Regions from separate parts of the Homo sapiens genome. Here all the other regions are reported to be linked to region 1. Evidence: microRNA targets listed by miRTarBase, many of them from high-throughput screens and not tested one by one. Region 1 holds a microRNA gene; each other region holds the end of a gene's coding sequence.
What was found. Region 1 holds the annotated microRNA hsa-miR-3689d (GGGAGGUGUGAUCUCACACUCG, at 860-881, opposite strand). A microRNA usually pairs through its seed, bases 2 to 8, with sites in the 3' UTR of a target mRNA and lowers its output. Matches are read on the target gene's strand: a 7mer-m8 pairs with bases 2 to 8, a 7mer-A1 pairs with bases 2 to 7 and ends in A, and an 8mer does both.

Region 1 (3,171 bases):
ACGGGATCACACCTCCCAGGAACCACGATATCACACCTCCCAGGAAGCACAGGATCACACCTCCCAGGAACCATGATATCACACCTCCCAGGGAGCACAGGATCAGACCCCCCAGGGAGCACAGGATCACACCTCTCAGGAAGAACAGGATCACACCTCCCGGGGAAGACGATAGCACACCTCCCAGCGAGTGTGAGATCACACCTCCCAGTGAGCGTGGGATCACACCTCCCAGGAAGCATGGTATCACACCTCCCAGGAAGCACAGGATCACACCTCCCAGGAAGCACGGGATCACACCTCCCAGGAAGCATGGGATCACACCTCCCAGGGAGCACCAGATCACACCTCCCAGGAACCACGATATCACACCTCCCAGGAACCACGATATCACACCTCCCAGGAACCACGATATCACACCTCCCAGGAACCACGATATCACACCTTCCAGGAAGCACAGGATCACACCTCCCAGGAAGCACGGGATCACACCTCCCAGGAACCACGATATCACACCTCCCAGGAACCACGATATCACACCTCCCAGGAAGCACAGGATCAGACCTCACAGGGAGCACGGGATCACACCTCCCAGGGAGCACGGGATCACACCTCCCAGGGAGCACGGGATCACACCTCCCAGGGAGCACGGGATCACACCTCCCAGGGAGCACGGGATCACACCTCCCAGGAACCACAATATCACACCTCCCAGGAAGCACGGGATCACACCTCCCAGGAACCATGATATCACACCTCCCAGGAAGCACAGGATCAGACCCCCCAGGGAGCACAGGATCACACCGCTCAGGAAGAACAGGATCACACCTCCCAGGGAAGACGATAGCACACCTCCCAGCGAGTGTGAGATCACACCTCCCAGTGAGCGTGGGATCACACCTCCCAGGAAGCATGGTATCACACCTCCCAGGAAGCACAGGATCACACCTCCCAGGAAGCATGGGATCACACCTCCCAGGAAGCACAGGATCACACCTCCCAGGAAGCACGGGATCACACCTCCCAGGAACCACGATATCATACCTCCCAGGAACCATGATATCATACCTCCCAGGAAGCACGGGATCAGACCTCCCAGGGAGCACGGGATCACACCTCCCAGGAACCACGATATCATACCTCCCAGGAACCATGATATCACACCTCCCAGGAGGCATGGGATCAGACCTCCCAGGGAGCACGGGATCACACCTCCCAGGAAAGCACGGGATCAGACCTCCCAGGGAGCACGGGATCACACCTCCCAGCGAGTGTGGGATCACACCTCCCAGGAAGCACAGCATCACACGTCCCAGGAAGCACGATATCACACCTCCCAGGAAGCACAGGATCACACCTTCCAGGAAGCACAGGATCACACCTCCCAGGAACCACGATATCACACCTCCCAGGAAGCACAGGATACACCTCCCAGGGAGCACAGGATCATACCTCCCAGGGAGCACAGGATACACCTCCCAGGGAGCACGGGATCACACCTCCCAGGGAGCACGGGATCACACCTCCCAGGGGAGCCACAGGTTCTTAATGGGACAAGGCCAGCGCTTAGCAGAAGTGTTCCTGGTGTTTCTTGGTGTCTGCCCATCAGTGGCCCCCACCTGGCTGCCTGTTGAAGTCATCCGGGGAGCCCCCTAAAAGTACGCATTCTAGGTCCACCTCTAGGCCTTCTAAGCCAAGCCACCCGCGGGGAGGTGGTGGTAGAACCTGCAGTGTGTGAGGTCCCACACCCCACCCCATAGGGTTCTCTGCTCGGCTACACTTGGAGCTCACTTCACTTCAGCGGCATGGAGACAGTAGCCCCACCCGTCCCCACACACCCGCACTTCTGCAGGAAAGGGCCTTCCGTCAGAGCCCACAGCGGGCTGGGCCTGCAGCTGAATGAAGTCAACTACTTAAACGTCCTGAAGAGGGAAGGAAACCACACTGAATAAAGTTAGAGGTGTGCACATGCAACGTTCTGCATGCTTTAGAGTTACAGGTGTGCACAGGTAGCATTGTGTGTGCTTTGGATGGAGTTGGAGGTGTGCACAGGTAGCATTGTGTGTGCTTTAGATGGAGTTGGAGGTGAGCACAGGTAGCATCGTGTGTGCTTTAGATGGAGCTGGAGGTGTACACAGGTAGCATTGTGTGTGCTTTAGATGGAGTTACAGGTGTGCACAGGTAGCATTATGTGTGCTTTAGATGGAGGTGTGCACAGGTAGCATTGTGTGTACTTTAGATGGAGATGGAGGTGTGCACAGGTAGCATTGTGTGTGCTTTAGATGGAGTTGGAGGTGTGCGCACAAAGCACTGTGTGTGCTTTAAATGGAGTTGGAGGTGTGCACAAAGCATTGTGTGTGCTTTAGATGGAGTTGGAGGTGTGCACAGGTAGCATGGTGTGTGCTTTAGATGGAGTTGGAGGTGTGCGCACAAAGCACTGTGTGTGCTTTAAATGGAGTTGGAGGTGTGCACAGGTAGCATTGTGTGTGCTTTAGATGGAGTTGGAGGTGTGCACAGGCAGCATTGTGTGTGCTTTAGATGGAGTTGGAGGTGTGCACAGGTAGCATTGTGTGTGCTTTAGAAGGAGATGGAGGTGTGCACAGGTAGCATCGTGTGTGCTTTAGATGGAGTTGGAGGTGTGCACAGGCAGCATTGTGTGTGCTTTACATGGAGTTGGAGGTGTGCACAGGTAGCATTGTGTGTGCTTTACATGGAGTTGGAGGTGTGCACAGGTAGCATTGTGTGTGCTTTACATGGAGTTGGAGGTATGCACAGGTAGCATTGTGTGTGCTTTACATGGAGTTGAAGGTGTGCACAGGTAGCATTGTGTGTGCTTTAGATGAAGTTGGAGGTGTGCACAGGTAGCATTGTGTGTGCTTTAGATGGAGTTACAGGTATGCACAGGTAGCATTGTGTGTACTTTAGATGGAGTTGGAGGTGTGCACAGGCAGCATTGTGTGTGCTTTAGATGAAGTTGGAGGTGTGCACAGGTAGCATTGTGTGTACTTTAGATGGAGTTGCAGGTGTGCACAGGTAGCATTGTGTGTGCTTTAGATGGAGTTGGAGGTGTGCACAGGCAGCATTGTGTGTGCTTTAGATGGAGTTGGAGGTGTGCACAGGCAGCATGTGTGTGCTTTAGATGAAGCTGGAGGTGTGCACAGGTAGCATTGT
Region 2 (3,171 bases), not on the chromosome of region 1:
AACATAGCTAAAGTAAAGTATTAATGGTATGAGTTAATAAGTGAAATAAAAGTTAATGGTATAAAATTTTAGATAAGATTTCCATGTGTGACTACTTAGAAGAAAATAACTTACCATGTTATCCCAACCATAGAAAACAGAGCCTCAGGAGATTGCGGACCTTGCTGTGGTCCCAAGTCTTACTGAGAAAGACAGAAGCCTGGGTAGGGATCTTCTGACTGCAGAGCCTACACTCTCCAATAGACCATGTAGCCTCCTAAAGTTTTTTCTTCACTAGAATCTGTAAGCTTATGGTTAATAGATAAAATAAGACCATGTCATCATTTGGAGTTAGAACTGGTGCTTTCTAATGACTTAGGGAATGAGAAAGGGTGTAAAGAACAAGTGTTACTGGTTGGTAACTCAAGGATCAAATTGTAAGTTGCAGATTATTTTTTTCAGCAGTATGGAGAGAGTATTGCATAATAGAGCTCCATGCAATGTAATTAATTTAAAGTCTGGCAAAGTGAAACATCACTCCTTCATTCTACTTGTCATCCTCTCCACCCCCATCACACACATACCTATTTGGCCTAAATATAAAGTGGTCTCAAAAAAACCAACCATGGCCGGGCATGGTGGCTCACGCCTGTAATTCCAGCATTTTGGGAGGTCTAGGTGGGTGGATTACCTGAGGTCAGGAGTTTGAGACCAGCCTGCCCAACACAGTGAAACCCCATCTCTACTAAAAATACAAAAATTAGCCGGGCATGGTGGTGGGAGTCTGTAATCCCAGCTACTCAGGAGGCTGAGGCAGAATTGCTTGAACTTGGGAGGTGGAGGTTGCAGTGAGCTAAGATCACACCATTGTACTCCAGCCTAGGCAACACGAGTGAAACTCCATCTCAAAAAAACAAACAAACAAAAAACAACCATTACTTTCTTGGATAGTGTTTTCAAAATGATGGGTTGCAGTATATATATATATATATATTTTTTTTTTTTTTTTTGAGACAGAGCCTTGCTCTGTCGCCCAGGCTGGAGTGCAGTGGTGTGATCTCGGCTCACTGCAAGCTCTGTCTCCCGGGTTCACACCAATTCTCCTGCCTCAGCCTCCCGAGTAGCTGGGCCTACAGGTGCCCCCCACCACGCCCGGCTAATTTTTTGTATTTTTTTTTTTTTTAGTAGAGACGAGGTTTCACCGTGTTGGCCAGGATGGTCTCGATCTCCTGACCTCGTGATCTGCCCACCTCGGCCTCCCAAAGTGCTGGGATTACAGGCATGAGCCACTGTGCCCGGCCAGTAAAAATATTTTTTAATGAAACAACAGAAAGTATCACATAGAGGGCCAGGCGCGGTGGCTCATGCCTGTAATCCCAGCACTTTGGGAGGCCAAGGCAGGCAGATCACAAGGTCAGGAGATCGAGACCATCCTGGCTAACATGGTGAAACCCCATCTCTACTAAAAATACAAAAAATTAGCCGGGCATAGTAGCGGGCGCCTGTAGTCCCAGCTACTCGGGAGGCTGAGGCAGGAGAATGGCATGAACTCGGGAGACGGAGCTTGCAGTGAGCCGAGATTGCGCCACTGCACTCCAGCCTAGGCGACAGAGCCAGACTCCATCTCAAAAAAGTATCACATAGAGATGAGTTATATGTACTCGTTCACATTGTAAAATATTAATATGTCAATATGAGTGATGGTTAAAAAAGGTAATAAAACACTTTTAGGGTAAACAGCACTATATCTAGAACCACAAGACCAAGGGCACAGTCTAATTCATGACATCAATGGACTCATTCAATTTGAGCCATGGTTTCAGCCAGTGTAAATGAAAGTATACCTACTCCTGCATCTCAGCCATTCTTACCTGGGCAAAGGTTTTATATCAGTGTAACCAAAACAGCTATACTTTTTTCCTCAAAAAAAAAAAAAAAAAGTTTATTTTAGAGTGAGAACATGTCATACTACTTTTAAATCTTGGAGCATTCAAGGTAAGTAGTCTTGGTACAGGATACAATCAAATCATGATACACTTCAGTGATTTTATACTGAGTCACATACTTAATATAAAGGCACACTGTACTGAATAAAAAAATAAGTGTTAAGTTCTTGACCTTTTAAATTAGAATTTTATAAAGTGCTTTTCATAAAGTCTTATATATTATAGTAATTAAGTGGATATAATTTCCTTAACAAAGGCACCTTGAAAAGTTATTGGCACATGAGATTTTGTCTGGTCTTTTTTTTTTCTTTTGATAATTTCAAAGTCTCTTCACATGTGTTCTCTTCCACTTTAAGTTTTCCTTAACAATTCATCATATGAATAGCCAGCCCTTTTAGAGAATAAGGTCAACTTTTTTTTTTTTGAAACAGAGTCTCGCTCTGTCACCCAGGCTGGAGTGCAGTGGCGTGATCTTGGCTCACTGCAGCCTCCGCCTCCCGGGTTCAAGCAATTCTCCTGCCTCAGCCTCCCAAGTAGCTGGGACTACAGGCGTGCACCGCCACACCCAGCTAATTTTTTTATTTTTTTTAGTAGAGACAGGGTTTCACCATGTTGGCAGGATGGTCTTGATCTGACCTCGTGATCCGCCCGCATTGGCCTCCCAAAGTCCTGGGATTACAGGCATGAGCCACTGCACCCGGCCGAGAATAAGGTAAACTTTAACTTGGCACTGTAAAGGTCAATTTTCAGGCAGTCTTAGAGTTTAGCAATTTCTCTAGTGTATAAACTGATTCTTAACGATTTAAAGAAAATTATATTCAAGTGGCAAATTTGGAGGCAACAGGCTACTTCGGAGTCCATGATATGAGATGGCGTTTTAAATACATGTTTTATCTTCAAGGTTTTCAGCTCTTTTCTCTGGACCATCTGGATATAAGTTGATAGCTGTCACAGGTATGACGTCCACTTTATCCAACTGAAGAATTCCTCTGAAATAGAAAGTGATTAATTACTATCAAAATTAAATGTTTCCTCTGCCTGTAGTTTGATAGTGAGAAAAGGCTACTTCAAGGTTATAATATACACCTAAGGTTAGGTGCTTTTGCTACATTCTATTTAAAAATTCATAGTGGTTGTACAAACTGAGCCCAAAGTCACTTTAACCAAACTGGCTGAGAGAATAGAAAGGCATCGAGGAAGTTCATTATTTCCTATTTTAGGGAAGAATAGGGTAAGTATAGATCTC
Region 3 (3,171 bases), not on the chromosome of region 1:
AATATGCTTAATTTTCTCATGTAGTTTACCAATTCTAAAGGTAATTTCTTTTTTTTTTTTTTTTTGAGACGGAGTCCCGCTCTGTCGCCCAGGCTGGAGTGCAGTGGCGCAATCTCGGCTCACTGCAAGCTCCACCTCCCGGGTTCACGCCATTCTCCTGCCTCAGCCTCCTGAGTAGCTGGGACTACAGGCGCCCGCCACCACGCCTGGCTAATTTTTTGTATTTTTAGTAGAGACGGGGTTTCACCGTGTTAACCAGGATGGTCTCGATCTCCTGACCTCGTGATCCGCCCGCCTCGGCCTCCCAAAGTGCTGGGATTACAGGCGTGAGCCACCGCGCCTGGCCCTAAAGGTAATTTTAAAAGTCCTCAAAATGTTTTAATTGTAGCATTGCGAAAATAAATATCTAGCTTTCCAAGTTATTATGCACATATACCATCTGTGTCAGTCTGTTCTCATGCTGCTAATAAAGTCATACCCAAGACTGGGTAATTTATAAAGGAAAGAGGTTTAATTGACTCACAGTTCTGCATGACTGAGGAGGCCTCAAGAAACTTACAATCATGGCGGAAGGCAACTTTTCACAGGGCAGCAGGAGAGAAGAATGAGAGTGAAGCAGGGAAAAGCTCCTTATAAAATCATCAGGTCTCATAAGAACTCAGTATCACGAGAACCGCATGAGGGTAACCGCCCCCACGATTCAATTACCTCCCACTGGGTCCTTCCCACAACACGTCGGGATTATGGGAACTACAATTCAAGATGAGATCTGGCTGGGGACATAGCCAAACCACGTCACCATCGTTCCCTAAATGTAAATGAGTAAGAGCCACTTTACTTTTTAAATGAAATAATATGCTTTATTTTAACCGTTCTGGAACAAAAGCAAATGAAAATCGACTCAGAATATCAACAGACATTCCTTTATAGATTCTCAAAGCACAAAGAAATTTGTATGATTTTATAGTACTAACCGCTGCATTTTACAGATGAAACTAATTCCCTGAAGGGTGTGGTGATTGCCAATATGACTTAGCAAATCAGTGGCAGAGCCAGGTGTAGAGCCCAAGTCTCTTGTCTTCTACCAGGTATTTATTCGTTTCACTACCCTACTATCCCTATCTGTGGTTTAAGAATAATACCAGAGGAGATAAATTGTTTCACCCTTTCAAAACAATGTAAAAATTACCTTCTAATCGAGTATTTGGTATTTACTGCTCAATGATCAACTAGAAAAAATATATAATACTAGATGGGATCTAATATATTCTAAATTCTTTAACTGGTAACTTGTCAATTTAAATGTCTTTGAACTACGCTTAGAGTTGTAACATCAAATGCTATAGAAACAGGCTGTAAAAATCTAAATGTCTCAAAATGGAAGCAAAGACATACCTATATAATGATTCATTTATCCAAATGAAATGTAAAGTAAATCCTTACTGGAAATTTTGACTTGAAAATAATAGACCATACAGAATTCTTGGATAGCTCATAAAATTTCAATTCAAATTACTCACAAAAAGTCCCAATGCCCAGTGAATAACAGATGTTTCTTAAAAAGAGATCAATGAATGTATTTTTGGAATGATGTCAGAGATGAGCCTCTTTTATAATCATTTTTGATTAGACATATAGCTTCATTCACAAAAACACAAACAAGGTCAAAATTCACAGAAAGGATTACTGTGCCCTAAGGAAACATATTTTAGCTGCAGCTATAAATGTGGGTTTGCTTATCAAATTTATATATGAAGTTTTCTATCTTAATCATTGTATAACTAAAGCTTATGCTAGAACAATACCAGAGGGGATAAATTGTTTCACCCTTTCTAAACAATGTAGAAATTACCTTCTAGTCTAGTGTTTGGTACTTATTACTCACTGATCCACTAGGAAAAATATATAATACTAAGCAGGATCTAGTATTTTTTTCCACAATGATGGTGAAGCTAAATAATTAGAATAGAAAATTTGGAATACTTCATTTGGCATTTTATATCTTTACGTCAATTTGTTTATGACATGTTTGGTTTTAGGTTTATTATACAAAGAATGTAAAACAATTTCAATTAAAAATGCATACTACTTTCTTAATTTCTCTTAATTACTTATAAGTAGGCAGTTTAATAACGAAATAAACCTTTCAAGACAAATGGTGATCTCTGAAAAAGTCTTGGACTGATTTGAGGTAAAATCTATAGCGAAATATGACTGAGGTGTCACTAGATTAGACTGCTGTTAATTTTTATGTATCAGTGTGAAAACAAATGGATGAAGAGAACCACCTAATATGAATATTTACGTGAAACTAGAAGTGCCCTAGGATCTTTGAATAATTTTAAATTGCATTTAGCTAAGGAAGACTTATTTGAGGACAGTACTTTGTATGAATTACTTTATCAAAACTCAAGAATGGGCCAGGCACTGTGGCTCACACCTGTAATCCCAGCAACTTAGGGAGGCAGAGAAGGGCAGATCACGAGGCCAGGAGTTCGAGACCAGCCTGGCCAACATGGTGAAACCCCATCTCTACTAAAAATACAAAAACTAGCTGGGCATGGTGGTGCACACCTGTAGTCCCAGCTACTCAGAAGGCTGAGGCAGGAGAATCACTTGAACCTGGAGGTGAAGGTTGCAGTGAGCCCAGAGCACACCACTGCATTCCAGCCTGGGCAACAGACCAAGACTCTGTCTCAAAAAAAAAAACCCAAAAACTCAAGAATAATAACATTTACATTTCTGAACATAAAATAGTTTTTTAAAAAGTATGCCACTTATTCAATTTACAAATTATTACTTACAACAGAGTTTAACATAAGCATGATGACATATTTTTACTTAGCTTGAGAGTTAAGTATTATTACTTAAAACCAGGAAACATGCCTTTATTTTTGGAAGGAGATGGTTTAAAGTTCTTTATTTCTATTTCATGAGTTTTTCCCAGTTCCAGTTCATTTATCCAAGTTGTTTTTACATTACCATCAATGTCATCAATTTTACTTTCTTCAATATGCAGAATTCCATTCAACTTTGTATCTATGCAATCCTCAGCTTTCACTTCTCTGGCTGAATCTACTTCTTTTATAGTTCTAATTTCAAAAAGGTCTTTAGCTAAAATGCAATCTGAATTGTTAGCCAATCTATTTCCTCTATCAGTTTCAGCTAGGT

Region 2: miRTarBase lists GINM1 as a target of hsa-miR-3689d. The part of its 3' UTR that is shown has no 7-base or 8-base seed match.
Region 3: miRTarBase lists BRIP1 as a target of hsa-miR-3689d. Seed matches in the 3' UTR shown: 8mer at 2,624-2,631.

The regions. Positions count from the first base shown.
Region 1 is chr9:134,849,473-134,852,643 of GRCh38, forward strand. It overlaps MIR3689D2 (microRNA 3689d-2), which reads right to left and starts at 884; the gene lies at 805-884. MIR3689A (microRNA 3689a) reads right to left here and starts at 92; the gene lies at 15-92. It overlaps MIR3689D1 (microRNA 3689d-1), which reads right to left and starts at 210; the gene lies at 137-210. It overlaps MIR3689B (microRNA 3689b), which reads right to left and starts at 800; the gene lies at 653-800. It also overlaps MIR3689E, MIR3689F and LOC101448202.
Region 2 is chr6:149,590,470-149,593,640 of GRCh38, reverse strand. It overlaps GINM1 (glycosylated integral membrane protein 1), which reads right to left. Exons shown (of 8, transcript NM_138785.5): 8 at 1,893-2,914. The coding sequence ends at 2,803. It also overlaps the pseudogene RPS18P9. Among named protein-coding and RNA genes, the nearest start is that of GINM1, 26 kb to the right of the region's middle.
Region 3 is chr17:61,680,433-61,683,603 of GRCh38, forward strand. It overlaps BRIP1 (BRCA1 interacting DNA helicase 1), which reads right to left. Exons shown (of 20, transcript NM_032043.3): 20 at 1-3,171. The coding sequence ends at 2,864. Among named protein-coding and RNA genes, the nearest start is that of NACA2, 91 kb to the left of the region's middle.